Linked DNA regions of Homo sapiens: region 1 is linked to region 2. The links come from fine-mapping of genetic effects on gene expression. A gene starts in region 2. The other region holds a variant in brackets. All regions are shown on one strand. Distances are between the middles of the regions. Region 1 overlaps LOC102723789 (a long non-coding RNA gene). Region 2 holds the start of DAAM2-AS1 (DAAM2 antisense RNA 1).

Evidence for each region.
Region 1: its variant is fine-mapped to the expression of DAAM2-AS1 in lung (TOPMed, PIP above 0.99).

What each region holds. Positions count from the first base shown.
Region 1 is chr6:39,958,977-39,967,315 of GRCh38, forward strand. LOC102723789 (a long non-coding RNA gene) reads left to right here. Exons shown (of 6, transcript XR_001744112.1): 4 at 4,534-4,583. Among named protein-coding and RNA genes, the nearest start is that of MOCS1, 29 kb to the left of the region's middle. The variant G/C (reference allele first, on the strand shown) is at 3,611.
Region 2 is chr6:39,893,315-39,901,653 of GRCh38, forward strand. DAAM2-AS1 (DAAM2 antisense RNA 1) reads right to left here and starts at 4,066. Exons shown (of 4, transcript NR_125831.1): 1 at 3,883-4,066. It overlaps DAAM2 (dishevelled associated activator of morphogenesis 2), which reads left to right. Exons shown (of 25, transcript NM_001201427.2): 20 at 3,498-3,666; 21 at 3,861-3,968; 22 at 5,563-5,623; 23 at 6,763-6,894; 24 at 7,988-8,158. RefSeq lists enhancers at 3,485-3,984, 4,285-4,801.

The DNA.
Region 1 (8,339 bases), 66 kb after region 2:
TCTTTCTGTACAAAGAATGTGAATTTTCAATGCAATAAAATCTTATTTAACAACAAAAAAGCATGACATAGTTGTTAAGAAGTTGTGTCCCAGAGTCAAAGTACCCAAGTTGGAATCCTGTTTCCACTACGTGCCAGCTGTGTGTTCTTGAGCATGCTGGTCAACCTCTTTGTGTTTGTTTACTCATGCACAGAGTGGGTGTGGTGGCATGAAAATGCACCTGGCAGACCTTCTAGTGCAGAGCACATAACTAGCCAAGGGTCCCAGTTGCTACAGTTTGGAATCCATCATAGCATGTGTGCCAGGGTCACATCTCTTCCGGGCTGCTCCCCACTAATGACTGAAAATGGCAGGGGTACTAAGGTACATCTATTCCCGAAAGACACGGGACTCCTTTCTTAACCAACTGTGGCTCAAAGACTCTCCAAAGGCTTTGCTGAACATTTCCGAAACTGCTGTGTAGTCTAAGACATTTCTACCCAGCCTTTTCTCCCTTTCTCCTTCACTCAGAGTCAATCTTGGGTTATGACATGATTCTCCCAGCCTTTACCCTCTTTCTCCCATTTCTTTTTCAAAGGCATTTCCCTGAACATACTTGCACATTTATTCTGGTCTTGTCACCTTTGTCTTGGAGGACCCAGATTAACACAGTGGAGACAGTAGTACCTACACCTCACAGAGTTGAGAAGATGAGTTAATTCATTTAATATGGTAATAGTCATACTTGAGAAATAGTAATAACTCAGTCCATTTTGATTGTTAAAGATAGACCCCATCTTACATTTCTAGTATTACAGAAATGCTGTAGCATTGTAGCAGATTAGATAATCCAAAAACCTTTTCATTATAAAATACCATGAAAGTATGATTAAATACAGAAAATAATCTTCTAAATGCATAGCTGAGCTTATAATAACATAAATCCTGGAGCAAAAATGAATAGAGAATTGAAAACCAGAAGTATTCTTCAGTTCACATTGTAGCTGTCCTTAGGTTTGTCTACCTCAGAGACCATGATGGAGGCTTTGCACATGAAGCCGAAAACTATCAAAGAACTACTACTATATTTTCAGAAGAAGGGCAGCAACTAAAAACAAGATCAACCCTTCAGCAAAGAGGGATATCAAGGAAGCTTGTCTGTTTTTACTTGTATTTGAATAAAGGGATAGGATTCCCCCAGACACCTGCTCTCCCTGAAGGCAGAGTTTCACATTTAGATCTCTTATGTGGCTGAGAACTCCCAAGCTGGTAATATCTGTAACAAAGAGAATGTAAGTCCTCTCTGGAGGGACAAAACCTTATCTAAGGTTTCTCAGAGTTCCCTTCAATACAGCCCTGCTAAAGGTGAACTCACAATCCACAATCACAAAACACATAAGAAAAGAATTCACCATGAGTGAGAGTTGTCAGTATTAAAAGTGGGATTATAGTCTCAAATTTAAAAGATAGTAATTGTAAGCATTTTTTAAAATTTTAAGTTAAGTGGTACATGGGCAGATTTGTTACACAGGTAAACTTGTGTCATGGGGTTTTTTTGCACAGATTATTTCACCCAGGTATGAAGCCTAGTACCTATTATTTTTTCCTGATCCCCTCTCTCCTCCCACACTCCACCCTCTGATAGGCCCCAGTGTGTGTTGTTTCCCTCTATGTGTCCATGTGTTCTTATCATTTAGCTCCCACTTGTGAGAACATGCAGCGTTTGGTTTTCTGTTCCTGTGTTAGTTTGCTAAGAATAATGGCCTGCAGCTCCATCCATGTCTCTGCAAAGAACATGACCTTGTTCTTTTTTATGACTGCATAGTATTCCACAGGGAATCAATATCATTAAGCATCTTTTACTCTCTCTGGCTGGAAGTTACATTAATAGTTTTTTTTAAATATAAGAGAAGGCTAAATTATCAAAATCAAATAAAAGTGTTAAAGACTCTCTTAGTTTAAGTTCTCTAGAAAGCAGAGCTTGAGACAAGGATGAAGATGGAGATATTTTATTTAGAAATTACAAGCCCAGTGACATGAAAGTGAGGGAGAAAAGGGGGAAGTGGGGCAAAGAAAGATGTGAAGCAATGTAATATGAGGCATTACTGCACTAGCCACTGGTTCTTGAGAAGCCATGAAGAAACACAGCTAGTCACATAGAAGGTATATTTGCTTAGCACACAGTACCTTTCTGGAAAGTTTTAAAAAAGAAGCACCACCTCTGATTAGAAGGGAGAAAAGAAGGGGGAATTTCTCTGCCCAGCTCCTTCCTGTTTCTCATTTCCCATTGCTCAAATTTCACACCATGGAGACCTAACTCATAATTATTGCATTATTCATCCTTTGATGTCACTCAGAAAGCCAGATCCTATGTCCATAAGTGGAGGAATGACTTGTTGCAGACAGGCATGGCATGTGAGATGTGAGGTCCGTTCAATCTCAGGCCCCCAGCCAGTCTGGGAAGCCGAGTAGAGGCGGCAGTGCGCCTGTTTACTCCAGGGAGTTATCGCAAATAGGAGGAATTTTGAGAACAAGGGAGGCAGTTTGGCTCTGAGAAAGTACACAAGGTTTGTGTCTGATGTGAAATGAGAATAGAGCCATTGAAATTAAGGAAAAATTCCCAGTGGAAAGATTAATCAGATCCAGATGAAGATAGAATTGGGAACTGGAAAAGAAGTGATTTCTCTGTGCTACATTTTGGGTAAGGAAACATTAAAAAATGAGAGGCATGAGAGATAGAGTGAAAAGGTTCAATTTATATTCAGTACAAATTTCAGAAGGTGAGATTAGAGAGAATCAGCAAGAGACTACATCGGTAAAGAATATGAATCCTTAGATTCAGTTTCTATGTGAGAATTTTTTTAAGTCCAAGGGCAGGTTTTGTGCACATAGATTAAAAATCAAACCCAAATAACTAAAAATAAAGTTTTGTTTACTAAAATTGTAAATGTAAACAGTTTTCCCTAAACCTCTAAATTTATCTTATAAATTGTATTATACTGTTTTAAACCCAGTAAGTTTTATATAAAATAATTATTTTCAGGGAGCCTTATTAAATTGGACTGATTACTTAAGGGAGTTTGATTTTGATTAATGTTAAGTAAACCTGAATTGAACAGACTAGTTTTCTGTAAGCACTTTAACATTTATAAATTTAATATATTCCATTTTCTTTAAGAAATTAGAAGTCTAAACTCAACAAACTCATGACCTAACAAACGAATCCTTCCCTCATTATTAAGCAGCTACAGTTCTTTTAACTATCCTAACACTCTTTATAAGTTAAGTCACTTCCTCTTATACCATCCAACCTCAAATCCAATGCACATTTAATTTGGAATGACAGGTCAATTTGTCATTTACTTTAATATGCCACATTCAATTATATTTTACCAGCATTTTATATACCCACCACTCAGATTATCTTGACTGTAACATAAACTAATGTCATGGGTTTGATGCACTTCATAATTTCTATATTCCTGGGGTTAAAAGACACTTAACCCACTAAAGTTCAGTGTTATTTTAGGTTACTGAGACAATTCATGATGTGATTATCACCCAAGGCAAGTTGGATTTGCAACTGGACAGAGACATAGAGACATTTGGCACAGGGATACCAGACTTGGAA[G/C]TGCCTGTGTCAAGTGTGGCTTCATGCATCACAGATGGATGTACTGAGTCCAGTTTTAATAATCTCTAGATTGTTAAGGACCTTTCAGGTAGGGTTGGTACCTACTGTTTCAGTTATACACCATCACACAATACTTTTTGTAATCTTTCAGTTTTATTACTTGATTTGAATCATCTGAATTCTACAATCTCCAACCAAATTTCAGCTGATTTTGTTCCCTAATGTCATCACTACTTGACTAAACTACGTATTTTTCGTGGCTACCAAGAGTCTGGTATTGGTAGACTCTGCTTCTCTCTTTTCTTTACCTAGCTCTATGGTCACAACACCCCTGAATGGTATAAATAAAAGTAGGTATACATTAGACACATTGAAATGGAATCAGAAGCAATGGCTACCAAGAGGTGGAAGTGGCCTAGTCAAAGCAAAAGCAGACCAGTGAAGAGCAAAGATCGTGGCAAAAGTTTCTTGGAATGCTCAAGGCATTTTTCTTGTTTACTTTCTGGAGGGCTGAAGAATGATATCATCTGTTTATTATGAGTGTTTTGAGAAAGCCAAGCTTTATGAGAAAAATACTCAGGAAGACTGCTAGAGAGTCTTTCACTACGACAATGCTCCTGCTTATTCCTCTTAAACAAGGGCAATTTCATGAGATTTGATGGAAAATTAGGCATCCACCTTACAGTTCTGATTTGGCTCCTTCTGATTACTATTTGTTTCCTCATCTTATAAAATCTTTAAAGGGCACCCATTTTTCTTCACCTAATAATGTAAAAAAGGTTGCACTGATGTGTTAAATTCCCAAGACCCTCAGTTCTTTATGGATGGACTAAATGGCTGGTATCATTGCTTTCAAAAGTGTCTTGAACTGATAGAGTTTATGTTGAGAAATAAAATGCTTTATTTTTATCTTTTAATTCCAGTTTCCATGAAATTTTGAGGTCACCTTGTATCTTTTAAGTGCTGAGAGAAGGTAAGAATGAACCTACAATTTTATGCCTAGTCAAACTATCATTCAGGACTGAGAAAAAAGTCATTTTCACAAAGACAAAGACTAAATTCCCTAACAGACTGTTTCTGGAAAAAAAAAAGTTAAACTACATAAATTCCACTCTATGAAAACACTTGCTATTTGCTATCTAAAATGCAGGAACGAAATAGACTTGCATAACATGATATACTTTACAGTCTCAGTATCCAAATTCATTATCCAAACCTAGGAACCAGAAAGTTCAGATGGTGAGGAAAACATAACTAAAGGAAGAAAAATTAAACCCCCCAAAAAAAGAAGTGAGATTCTCAAGAAGGAAAGGTGAGCAAGGAAACTGATTAACATATGGGTAAAACTAAATGACCATTGTTTGAAATAATACAAATAATCATTGTTTTAGGAGGTATACAAAATAGTGGAAATAAAATATGTACTGATTAATATATGAAGTAGAATTGGTAATTGAAATGAAAAGTTCAAGGTTTTGGCAATCGGCAGGAGGAGATTAGAAATATACTAATCGTAGCAGGCACTGTTGATACCGGTTTCCCCAGTATCCTTTCTGCCCACCCAAGTTCATTTGCAACTGTGGTAGACAGTTTTCAACAGGCTGACAGCTCCTGCTGAAGCACATGTCTCTCTCCCATGCCCAATGTCCTTCTCCTGAACCACAGAAACGTGCTCTGCCTTAAGCACCTGTAACCTGGAAGTTTAGGGAAGTTAACACCCATGGATAACGTTCAACCAATAGAGGAGTCAGATAAATGTCCTGACCTCCTTATCCCCTGGCGGGAAAATTGTCAGACACATTCCATTTGCTTATTCAGAGGGTTTGAGCATGTTATCCACAACAGTTACCTGCCCATGAGGGCTTCCCGTATTGGCTTCTCTCTCTTCCCCATCTCACTGTCCCATTCATTCACTTGTGCTTCCTGATTTTACTTCCAAATGCCTGTACTCAAGTTCTTGTCTCAAGGGCAGCTTCTAGAAGAATCTGAATAAGACACCGATTACCTTTAGAATTTAACTAAAGCATGCTTGCTACAATTTTAAGAGTAATCACTAAAACGATACAGACAGGATGTGAAAATTCCAGGTATAAGGGAAAAAAGGAAATGAAAAACCTTAAGTCAATAAAGATAAAAGGGGTGGAAGGGGAAGAGAAAGTTAAGAAAATCTGAGTAAATATTGTATTTCTTAGAATCTAAGAAATCTAGGATGACATCAGTTGTAAAATGTACTTAAATTTTACATGCTACTAAGTTAAAAAAAGCTGCTAACTACAACATGAATTGTAAGAAACACTTTAATTTCAAAGATATTGCAACATGGGGAAAATGTATATCTTTTGGCAGCACCAGAAAGATTCTAGAAATATAAAAGTATTCAATAATCATTATATAAAGGGGCTAAGTCATTTGAAAGGTCAGATTGTCCAACTGGATTATATTTTTAAGATTAGCTCTATGCCATCATTAAGAGATACTTCAAACATGAAAGAACACAAAGGTCACACATAGAAGAATGGAAAAAAGATAATATCAGGCAAATATTAACTAAAAAGCTGGTGTAGGTATCTCAAAATACCTCTAGAAATGCTTTTTTGCTTTAAGGAGAGCTTCTCCATGGTTGTAAAATTTCAATTCCTAAGGAAGATGTGACATTTCTAAATATTATGTACCTAAAACAGCCTAAAAACATAGAAAGCAAAAAGAAGTACAAGGAAACATAGAAACAGCCTAAGAACATAGAAAACAAAGAGAAGTGCAAGGAAAAGGTCAACTCCAGGTAACTCCAAAACAATCTAGTATTGACAGATCAAATAAATAAAAAATTAATAAATGTTTAGCAGATGTTAACATAATGACTATTATATAATGAACATGTAATAAACCCTATATCACAAATTAAAAATATATATACTCTTACACATGGAACATTTATGAAAATTAGCCACATATTAAGACATAAAACCAACCTTACAAATACTGAAAGAATCAATATCATACAGATTGTATTATCTGACCACAGTATAATTAACTTAGAAAGCAGTAACAAAAACATAAAAATACATTTGGAAATTTTCAAACATGTAGTTTTTGGGTCAAAGACAATATTGTAAGAGATATAAAGAAACATTTCAACTGAATAATAATGAAAATCTATGTATCAAAACTCATGCGGTACAGCTAAAGCTACCTTTACAGAAATTTACAGCCTCATATACTCAAAGAAGTCTGAAAATTTATGAGTTAATCATCTAACTCAAGAAATTAGAAAAAGAACAGGGTCCAAAGTAACTAAATGGAGGACAATAAAGATAAGATCAGCAATTAATTGTAATATCTTGCATTGGACTCAGTTTTTTTTTACTCTCCTACAATAGGATTATACATCCACATCCTCTACGTACAATGGAAAGATACTGTAAAGTTACTGGGCAGATATAGTTCCCTGCCCCCCTGAAAAAGGGCTTCACTATCAAGGCCAAGGCTTCCCACTTGGCCTCTGCTGGCCTCAGGACCACCAAAACTCAGCATTTAAACAACAAGCATTGATTTCTTACTGCAGGGTGTATGAGTCAGCTGGGATAGGCTAAAATCTGGGCTTCAGCCTCCAAGTTGCAGGTTGTGTTCAGGTCCTTAAACCTGGAGCACGTTCTTCCCTTAGTGAATGGCAGGCAAGCAACAGATTAAACTAGGCCGGGTTCGGTGGCTCACACCTGTAATCCCAGCACTCTGGGGGGCAGATGCAGGCATCGGAACACCTGAGGTCAGGAGTTTGAGACCAGCCTGGTCAAAATGGCAAAACCCCATCTCTACTAAAAAAATACAAAAACAGTTGGGCATAGTGGCACGTGCCTGTAATCCCAGCTACCTGGGAGGCTGAGACAGTAGAATCACTTGAACCTGGGAGGCGGAGGTTGCACTGAACCTGGATTGTGCCACTGCACATCAGCCTGGGTGACAGCAAGACTCCATCTCAAAAAAAAAAAAAAAAGATTAAACAAAACTGCGCTAACATATTCAAGTCTCCTGCTCCTATCAAATTTACCCACATTCCATTGGCTAAAGCAGAGTTTTGGTCGTCCCCAGGCCAGCAGAGGCCAAGTGGGGAGACTTGGCCAGACTGTAAGGAAGCACCAAAATCTCCTGTCCTCCAAAAACTGGTATCAAAGAAGGCCAAGTGAGAATATTCATCCTTCCTGGCAGTACCAGGCACACTGCACCCACATGGGAGCCTCGATTTCCATGGCCCCTTGGCAGTAATAAGACATCTCTCCCCTCCTGCTGGAGGGTGGGTGTCAGGAAGCCTGTGGAGAGGGCTGGGCCTTTCGCCACCAGCCAGCCATAATGAGGCTACCCTCTACCCCTATGGTGTCAGTGGAGGCTATTTGGAGAACACTCATGAGACACTCCTACCCCTCCCCTCAACCAGGGAGGCCTAGATGGGGGCTGGAACTTGCACCCCTGCCCAGCAGTAACAAGGAGTTCTCTCTCTCAGGTGTTAATAAAGGCCAAGTGGGAAACCTGGACTTCCAGCCCCACCTGGCAGTGGAACCCCCCTTCCCCTATCAGTGCAGTGTCAGAGGAAGCCAGTTAGAACAGAAAATTTATGTAAGATCAGACTCTCATGACATAATACCCCAAATTTCCAGGGTTCAATCACAAATCACTCATCATACCAACCACCAAGATCTCAAACTGAGTGAAAAGAGGTAATAAATGCTCATATCAA
Region 2 (8,339 bases):
GACCACTCTGGCTAACACGGTGAAACCTCGTGTCTACTAAAAAATACAAAAAAATTAGCCGGGCATGGAGGTGGGCACCTGTAGTCCCAGCTATTCAGGAGGCTGAGGCAGGAGAATGGCATGAACCCAGGAGGCGGAGCTGGCAGTGAGCCGACATGGAACCACTGCACTCCAGCCTGGGCAACAGAGCATGACTCCATCTCAAAAAAGAAAAAAAAAAAGAATTAGTCAGTGGATATTCAGGAAAGAGTCTCCATTTGATATCAAGCTAAGCCGAGTAAGATGTGTTTGGGATAGCAAGATCTGCTGGGGAAAGCTACTCTTCTATAGCTCTGCTCTATAATAATTGCTCTGTATAGCAATGGCTGCTGTCCTTGTATAGACCAGACATAAGTCTCTTTCCTCTAAGAGCTAGATAGGAAAGATATGCCTAAAGTTGTGTATTATAGAATCAGATCAGTGTGTGTGACTATAAGTGGAGAAAAGAGGATTGTGCAAAGATGGGATTCTTATTCTTCCTTCCAGTTCTCCCAGGAAGTATTCCTGGAAGAGCTAAGATTTAGCCTATCCCAGCTAGGTGTGATGAGCTGTTGACACCTGCCCTCCTATCCCCAGCAGGGGCTCTGAGTCCATTTGCCAAAAGCTAGTTCACCAAATTTGACAAATTTACCAGTTCTTCTATGAATATATTCATGAACTTACAATTCTTGAATATATTCTTCTTATGAATATATTGCTGAATATACCACATTTACCGATTCTTATTATAAATACATTCACCGAATATAGTCAAGATGAATATGGTTGCAAATGTAATATTCTTATGAATATATTCATGAATATATTATTCTTGTGAATATATCTAAAATGTCAGAACTGCATCTGGGCGTTTTCCCATTTACACTGATTTCCTTTGAACTCTTGTCATTTTCTGTTTTGCCAACATTTTAGCATTTTTAGGAGGATTCCTTTGCAGATTTTCCAAATAGCATATAAACCTTAGAAAAAACATCCCAACCAATATAAATTGCCAGAAACTTTCCCAAGTATTCTTTTTAAATAAACTATTTTTGAAACATAACATGCATATAGAAAAGTACACAAATCATAAGAGTCCTACTTGAAGAATTAAAAAAGGGAACCACATGTGTAATCAACACCCAGGTCAAGAAATACAGCTTCCAACCCCCCAGAGCCTTCTTCATGTCCCCCTCCCAAACTTTACCCCCCTCCCTCCTCTCTAAAGGTCAAACCCATCTTGACTGCTAGTTTAGTTTTATCGGTTTTGAACTTTATTTTTTAAATTTTTACCTATTTTCTTTTTGAGACAGGGTCCTGCCCTGTCACCCAGGCTGGAGTGCAGTGGTGTGATCTTGGCTCACTGCAACCTCTGCCTCCTGGGCTCAAGGTATCCTCCCATCTCAGCCTCCCAAGTAGCTGGCACTACAGGCACATGCCACCAGCCTGGCTAATTTTTGTATTTTTGTAGAGACAGGGTTTCACCATGTTGCCTAGGCTGGTCTCAAACTCCTGGGCCCAAGTGATCTGCCCACCTTGGCCTCCCAAAGTGCTGGGATTGTAGGCATGAGCTACCATGCCTGGCCTGTTTTGAACTTTATATGAAAGGAATGATAGAGTATGAATAATTTTAGGCTGGTGACTTTTGCTCAACATTATGGTTGTGGGTTGTCCCTGCTGTTACATGTAGCAGTGGGGTATTCATTTTCAGTTCTGCATTTTATTCCATTATATGAATACACCATAATTTACCCATTCTATTTGGAATTTAAAAAACCTAGAAACAACCCAAATACCCACCAAGAATAATGTGGCTTTTAGGTTATAGAGTATGTACATGTTCAACTTAAAAGCTACTGACAAACCTTACTATTCATTTTTACAACTTTATTTACTTATTTATTTATTTATTTATTTATTTGAGACGGAGCCTCACTCTGTCGCCCAGGCTGGAGTGCAGTGGTGTGATCTCGGCTCACTGCAACCTCTGTCTCCTGGGTTCAAGCAATTCTCCTGTCTCAGCTTCCCAAGTAACTGGGATTACAGGTGTGCACCACCACGCCTGGCTAATTTTTGTATTTTTAGTAGAGATGGGGTTTCACCGTGTCACCCAGGTTGTTCTCGAATGCCTGACCTCAGGTGATCTGCCTGCCTCAGCCTCCCAAAGTGCTGGTATAGCTTCTTTTTAACAGTTACTTATTTCTAACTGTGTTCGAAGCTTTCTACAAACTTTTAGCAAAGTCGTTTTCATTTTATCTTCCTAGCAGCATCTTAAAGAATGTTCAGTTTGGCATAAGCCACAGATCACAGGATAATCTGGTCTTTTTGTTGCCACACTGAATATTCAAAAATCATATTCCGTAACTAGTAGACAAAATCTCAGTTTAGGATTTGTGTCCCCCTTCTGCACACCCACCATAAAGACATCATAGCTGAGGAAGGGCCAGAGCATACACAGCAGAATGAATTATTGAAGTTTTGGTTACTGTTAGCTTAGTTTGTATTTCTGGCAAAGATAACATTTAGAGCATTGGGGGAAAATGGTTAAGATGCCCAAAGGTTGGAAAAATCTTAAAAATGACATTCAACAGGATGTCAAGTAGCTTATTTCATCAAATCTTAGACACTATCAACTGAAAAGCATGCCATTATTTTATAGAACAAAAATAATAGAATATTATAATTTAGAATATGTTATTTAATTGATTTTTTTTCTTTCCAAAAAACCAATAGAATATAGCATTTCAAGACAGGCAGAAGCAATCCCATAATAGGTAAAATGCTGAAGTTAAGTGCTAGGTTTAGAAAAGTAAAAGTGTCATATTCATGAGTATATTCATGGAAAGAATATCTGAATAATCTTTTTTTCTTTTTTCTTTTTTCTTTTTGATACAGAGTCTCATGCTCTTGCCCAGGCTGGAGTGCAGTGAGGCAATCTTGGCTCACTGCAGCCTCAGCCTCCTGGGTTCAAGGGACTCTTTTGCTTTGGCTTCCCAAGCATCTGGGATTATAGGCATGCACCACCACACCTGACTAATTTTTTGTATTTTTAGTAGAGACAGGGTTTCACCACGTTGGCCAGGCTGGTCTCGAACTCCTGACTCAAGTGATCTCCCTGCCTCGGCCTCCCAAAGTGCTGGGATTACAGGTGTGAGCCACCGCAACCGGCCTTCTTAATAATCTTTAAATACATGTAAGAAAAGATCTTCTGAAATTGTCTTCTTGGGAAGAGCTGGCACGTCCTACAAATGGGGTATCTGGTGAATTGGCCTTGGTGAATGTGTCTGCTTCCCCTGGAGGTGGGTGAATGTGAAATCGATGGGTCTGCTGAGGAGTAGGTATAATCTCTGCCTCACTGAGAGTTGAAGGCATTTGACAGCCCCTTTTCTGAACTTTGCGGTGGCATCTTCCTGGGGTGCAATGAGAACTGCTGCCCTGCCTAGCCCATGCAGGCCTCTGACCTGTGCCTCCTCTCCCAGCCATCCTGTTGGCCTCCCGGGAGCTGGTCCGCAGCAAGCGTCTTAGACAGATGCTAGAGGTCATCCTAGCCATAGGCAACTTCATGAACAAAGGGCAGCGTGGGGGCGCCTACGGGTTCCGGGTGGCCAGCCTCAACAAGATCGCTGACACCAAGTCCAGCATCGACAGGTGAGGACCTCCCTTCCCGGCCACTTCCTTGGCCTCTATCTCACCCTACCCTGGCCTCTCACATCCTCCCTCTATTAGGACGGGAACATCCTAAGACTCATCACCCCTTTCTCTTAACACTCCATCCTCTGACCCTCTGACCCTCGTGCCCAGTTTCCTCTGTCACTTACCACTGACCTGACTTTCATCCACAGAAACATCTCTCTGCTCCATTACCTGATCATGATCCTGGAGAAGCATTTTCCTGATATTCTAAACATGCCTTCAGAGCTGCAACATCTTCCAGAAGCTGCCAAAGTCAAGTGAGGGTTCTCTCCAAGACTTCCTTCTCCCCATGATGACCCTCATTCTTGTCTTACTTTCCTCTTTTGGGGTCTACTCTGGGCTTGATGATGGCTGGTGTGAGACCTCGGTTCTTGTCTTCTGAGTTCAAAAGAATTTAAACAGACACACAGCAAAGGGGGTTTAGCATAGAACAATGTATTGCAAAAGAAGATATCTTGTGAGTTAGGTGCAGAATAGACAGTACACCCTGAGAGAGAGAGGATTCAGGGTGGGCTGCTTGTAAGGATGAGACAGCCAAGACTGGCACCAGGAAGACTCCCAGTATGGGAGACTTACACGATTATTCATAAAGAGGTGGGAAGAGGTATTGGGAAGCAGGCTCTGAGTGGTCCTCTGGGTGCACATGTGTAGTAGCTGTGTGTGCTTTTTCATACATCGCATGTCTCATTAGCACCTTAAATCTCCACCTAGGGGTGTGTTTTTTTACTATTATATGAGCAAAGGGCCAGTCTGAGGATAGGTAAAATCAAAATGCGCATGCTTTCCAGAGGGGAAAGTCCCTACTGCAGATAGCTTTGCTTGAATGAGCTCAATTACAATGCGAATGCTGAGGTTTATTGTGTTGACTGTATGGGCACCACCACAGCTGCTGTGTTCTGAGAAGTGCTCACTTCCTTGACTACCTATCCTGCCTCAGGCTGAGTAGGAATGGGCCATGTCTCAGGGTCTGCTTCTGGGAAAAACCAAACAAAGACAATTTGCTCTTAAATCCTTATTTCAGAGATGCTTCCAGAAAATACCAGTAGAAGAATGGGGAAGTGAGCCAGAGATAGAAAGAATGCCAGTAACAAACATTATTAAGCCAGTTACCAATCACAGGCAATTGGTGCTTAACCCCATGAGGAATTCTGGGAAACAGTGTGGAATAGTTACTTCAGTTTTCCCACCCAAAGGGCAAGGTTGCTGGGGCAATCAGAGAGCATCTCCTCTCAGTAATTGGCTGAGGGGCTCTGCAGGGGCAGGGAATAACTCTCTGGCCACAGGTACAGGTGGAAAGAGCTTGGCCTCAAAAAGAGTGTGCGTACAGTTGGAAGAGTTGGGGCCATGCCCTACAATGGATGGTCCAAGGAAATGTGGGTGGGGCACCAACAGCATCTGCTAGGCAAGATATCAGACACGAACATCTAGGCTGATAGATGTCATCTCCAGGAAAACTAGAAACATAGTGGTAAATGGCTCACTGGTATCGAATGCTATTGCTTGCAGGATCACATAAAGAGCTTATAAGCATTACCTGGTAGTAATAAAAATAAATAGGTCTAAGCCAGAGGCCACAGGTTGGAAATCTTCTGATATTGCAGCATGACATTTCTGACCTGGAAAGATCTATAGAATGCAGGCTTCACCTTGTTAATTTATTGATGCACAGACAGAGGCATGAAGGGGAGGTGCTTTGTCAGGGCCAACATCAATGGCCACACCAGGGCTGGAACCCAGGCTCACCGACTCCCAGGCCACTGTGCTTGGCTCTGCCCTCTCCCTGAACCAGCCTTAGCACCTCAAGGCGGGAGTTGATGGTCCTCATTCCCTTCCCTCTGTGTCTCCTTACAGCCTAGCAGAACTGGAGAAGGAGGTGGGCAACCTCAGGAGGGGCCTGAGAGCGGTGGAGGTGGTGAGTACCTTGTCAGTGCCTACCTGGGTGAGGGCTGCTGTCAGCAAACACTGTTCGTCACTGCACCCTAAGCTCCTACACAGGGGCAAAAAACAATGGGTACAGCCTCTAGCACAGGGTCAGCCCTCCCAAAGGATAACTGGATTACTGGGGCTTAAGTTTGAGCCTTTTAAAAGGGGTTACCTAAGACTATACCCATGTTACTGTCCAACTTGGTATCTATTTGGCAGTGGAGTGGAATGAACCATACATCTGACCCATGCCTACATTGGATTCAAGTGCATGGGAAAAAGAATCCTCATCCCTTGACTGCCAGCTAGGGGCAGGAAGCACGCAATGTGGCAGTGGGACCGATGTACCCAGAAGGTTCTTCCTTATGTCTCTCTGCCTGTTTCCTGGGCCAGTGGAGGACCCAGGTCTTTTGTTCCCACCATTCCCGTTCTGATGGCTTCTCGGCTGATACTATCTCTGGCCCTAGCCTTCCAGAAAACACCAGTAGAGGAGTGGGGAAGTGAGCCAGACTGGCCCAGTATGGGGATGTCTCTAAGTCTTGTCCCCCACACCTAGGAAGAAGGGACCCGTTCCGTCTTCACTGAGGAGAGAGGCAGTGGGTAAGGGAAGAATGGACTTTAGAGACAGATTAAGGATGACAAAGAACGTTTTGTTGCCACTACGGTGGGGGAAGATGATTTCCAAATTTACAATTTTATAGTCCTGTTAAGTGCTACTCAAAGTGCGGTACATGGACCAGCAGCTTCTGAATCAGCTGGGAGCTTTAGAAAAATGTCTCTTTAATTTGTGCATGAGTCACCTGGAGTCTTGTAAAGATGAGTCTTGTTAAAATGCAGCTTCTGATCCTGTGGGTCTGAGAGTCTGTATTTCTCATAATTTCCTAGGTGATGCTGCTGGCCCCAGGTCACATGTTGGGTCTCAGTGCTCTAGAGAAAGAAAGATGGCAGGGTGGGCTGGCTGCTAATGTTAGCTCATAGTCTTTGCCATCCTTAGAACTTTGAGATGCAGGGTGTTCCCTCTTCCAAAGGGCTCAATGTCCTGTGAGTGACGAGGGGAGATGTGGTGACCCCTGCACCCGACTCTCATCTTGGCACCAGTCTAAGCAGCACTTCACCCTCCCTCCTCAGGAGCTGGAGTATCAGAGGCGCCAGGTACGGGAGCCCAGTGACAAGTTTGTCCCTGTCATGAGCGACTTCATCACGGTGTCCAGCTTCAGCTTCTCCGAGCTGGAGGACCAGCTAAATGAGGCCAGGGACAAGGTAAGGGTGCCCCAACCCCCACTGCTTGCCAACCCAGCCTTATCTAAACAAGCTCCTTCACCCATTCCTACCACAGACAGCCCAGGAGGGACAAACCCAGAGTTACAGAGCTTTGAGAGAAAACCGTTTCTTCGCTCTTAACAAGACAAGCAATGATAACCACATACCGCAAAGATCATGGTCCATTTATCAGATATCAGGCACCATGTTAAGTGTTTTAATGATTTGTCACCACCTACCTTATGGGTTTGTTGAAAGGTTATTTCCCACTTGACAGATATGAACGCTAAAATCAGAGATGCTAAGTAACTTGCCCAAGATTGCCCAGCTGTAAGTTATAGAACTGGGTTAGAATCTGACACCACAGCTCAGCAGTGGACATGATTACCATGCCTCTATCTGCTTCTCACACTAACGTGTCCATAGACCTCATGTATGGGGGTCTTATTAAAACATGGATTCTCATTTAGGAGGCCTGGGGTCTGAGATTCTGCATTTCTAACAGGAGGTGAATCTGCTGCTAGTCCATGAAGCACACTTTTGAGTAGTGAGATCTTTCTTAGAGGATACTGAGTGAGTTGAATTAACAATGGTAGCTCTCAGTAACTCAGAACAGTGCCTGGCCTATATAAATATAGCCACTGTTTTATAGCCACCAACTCATCTAACCCCCCAACACCACTATGATGTAGATTCTATTATTCCCATTTGACAGTGGAGGAAGCTGAGGCACAGAGGGGTTATTAACATAACTAGAGGATCTTTGAAGTTCTGAGTTCTGCCAGCCTCTTCCTGACCTCAGGAAGGGCTTCCCAAGGTCTATACCCCTGACCTCATGCCTACCCCTTACAGGCCCAGGGGTGGCTCTAAGGTGGACTGAGTGAGCCCAACTCTTTACCTGCCTCTCCTTAGCCTTGTCTCTGATCCTGATGATGATGGGGGTGTCTTCTCACCTCTTCCAGCCCTGCCCCCTGTGCCAACAGTCCCCAGCCTTGCGCTGGGCTCTGCTCTGGCTAGAACCCAGCTAACCTCAGGGGCTGAGCCCAGCATGCTCCAGGGCACTCTCCACCAATCCTGTTCTGTCCCTTGACAGTTCGCCAAGGCCTTGATGCACTTCGGGGAGCATGACAGCAAGATGCAGCCAGACGAATTCTTTGGCATCTTTGATACCTTCTTGCAGGCCTTCTCAGAGGCCCGGCAGGATCTAGAGGCCATGAGGAGGAGGAAGGAGGAGGAGGAGCGGCGGGCGCGCATGGAAGCCATGGTGAGGGGCAGTGCCAGGCCTGGGACTGAGGGGAGACGGGTGCTACTTGGGGAGAACACCCCCAAACTGGGGTGTGTGGGAGGAGGGCAGAGACTGAGGAACTGAGGAACACCATAGGGGTTGGATGTCAGCCCCAGGAGAGAGAAACTTCTTCCCAGCCTGAGGGAAGAGAGTGGTGTGA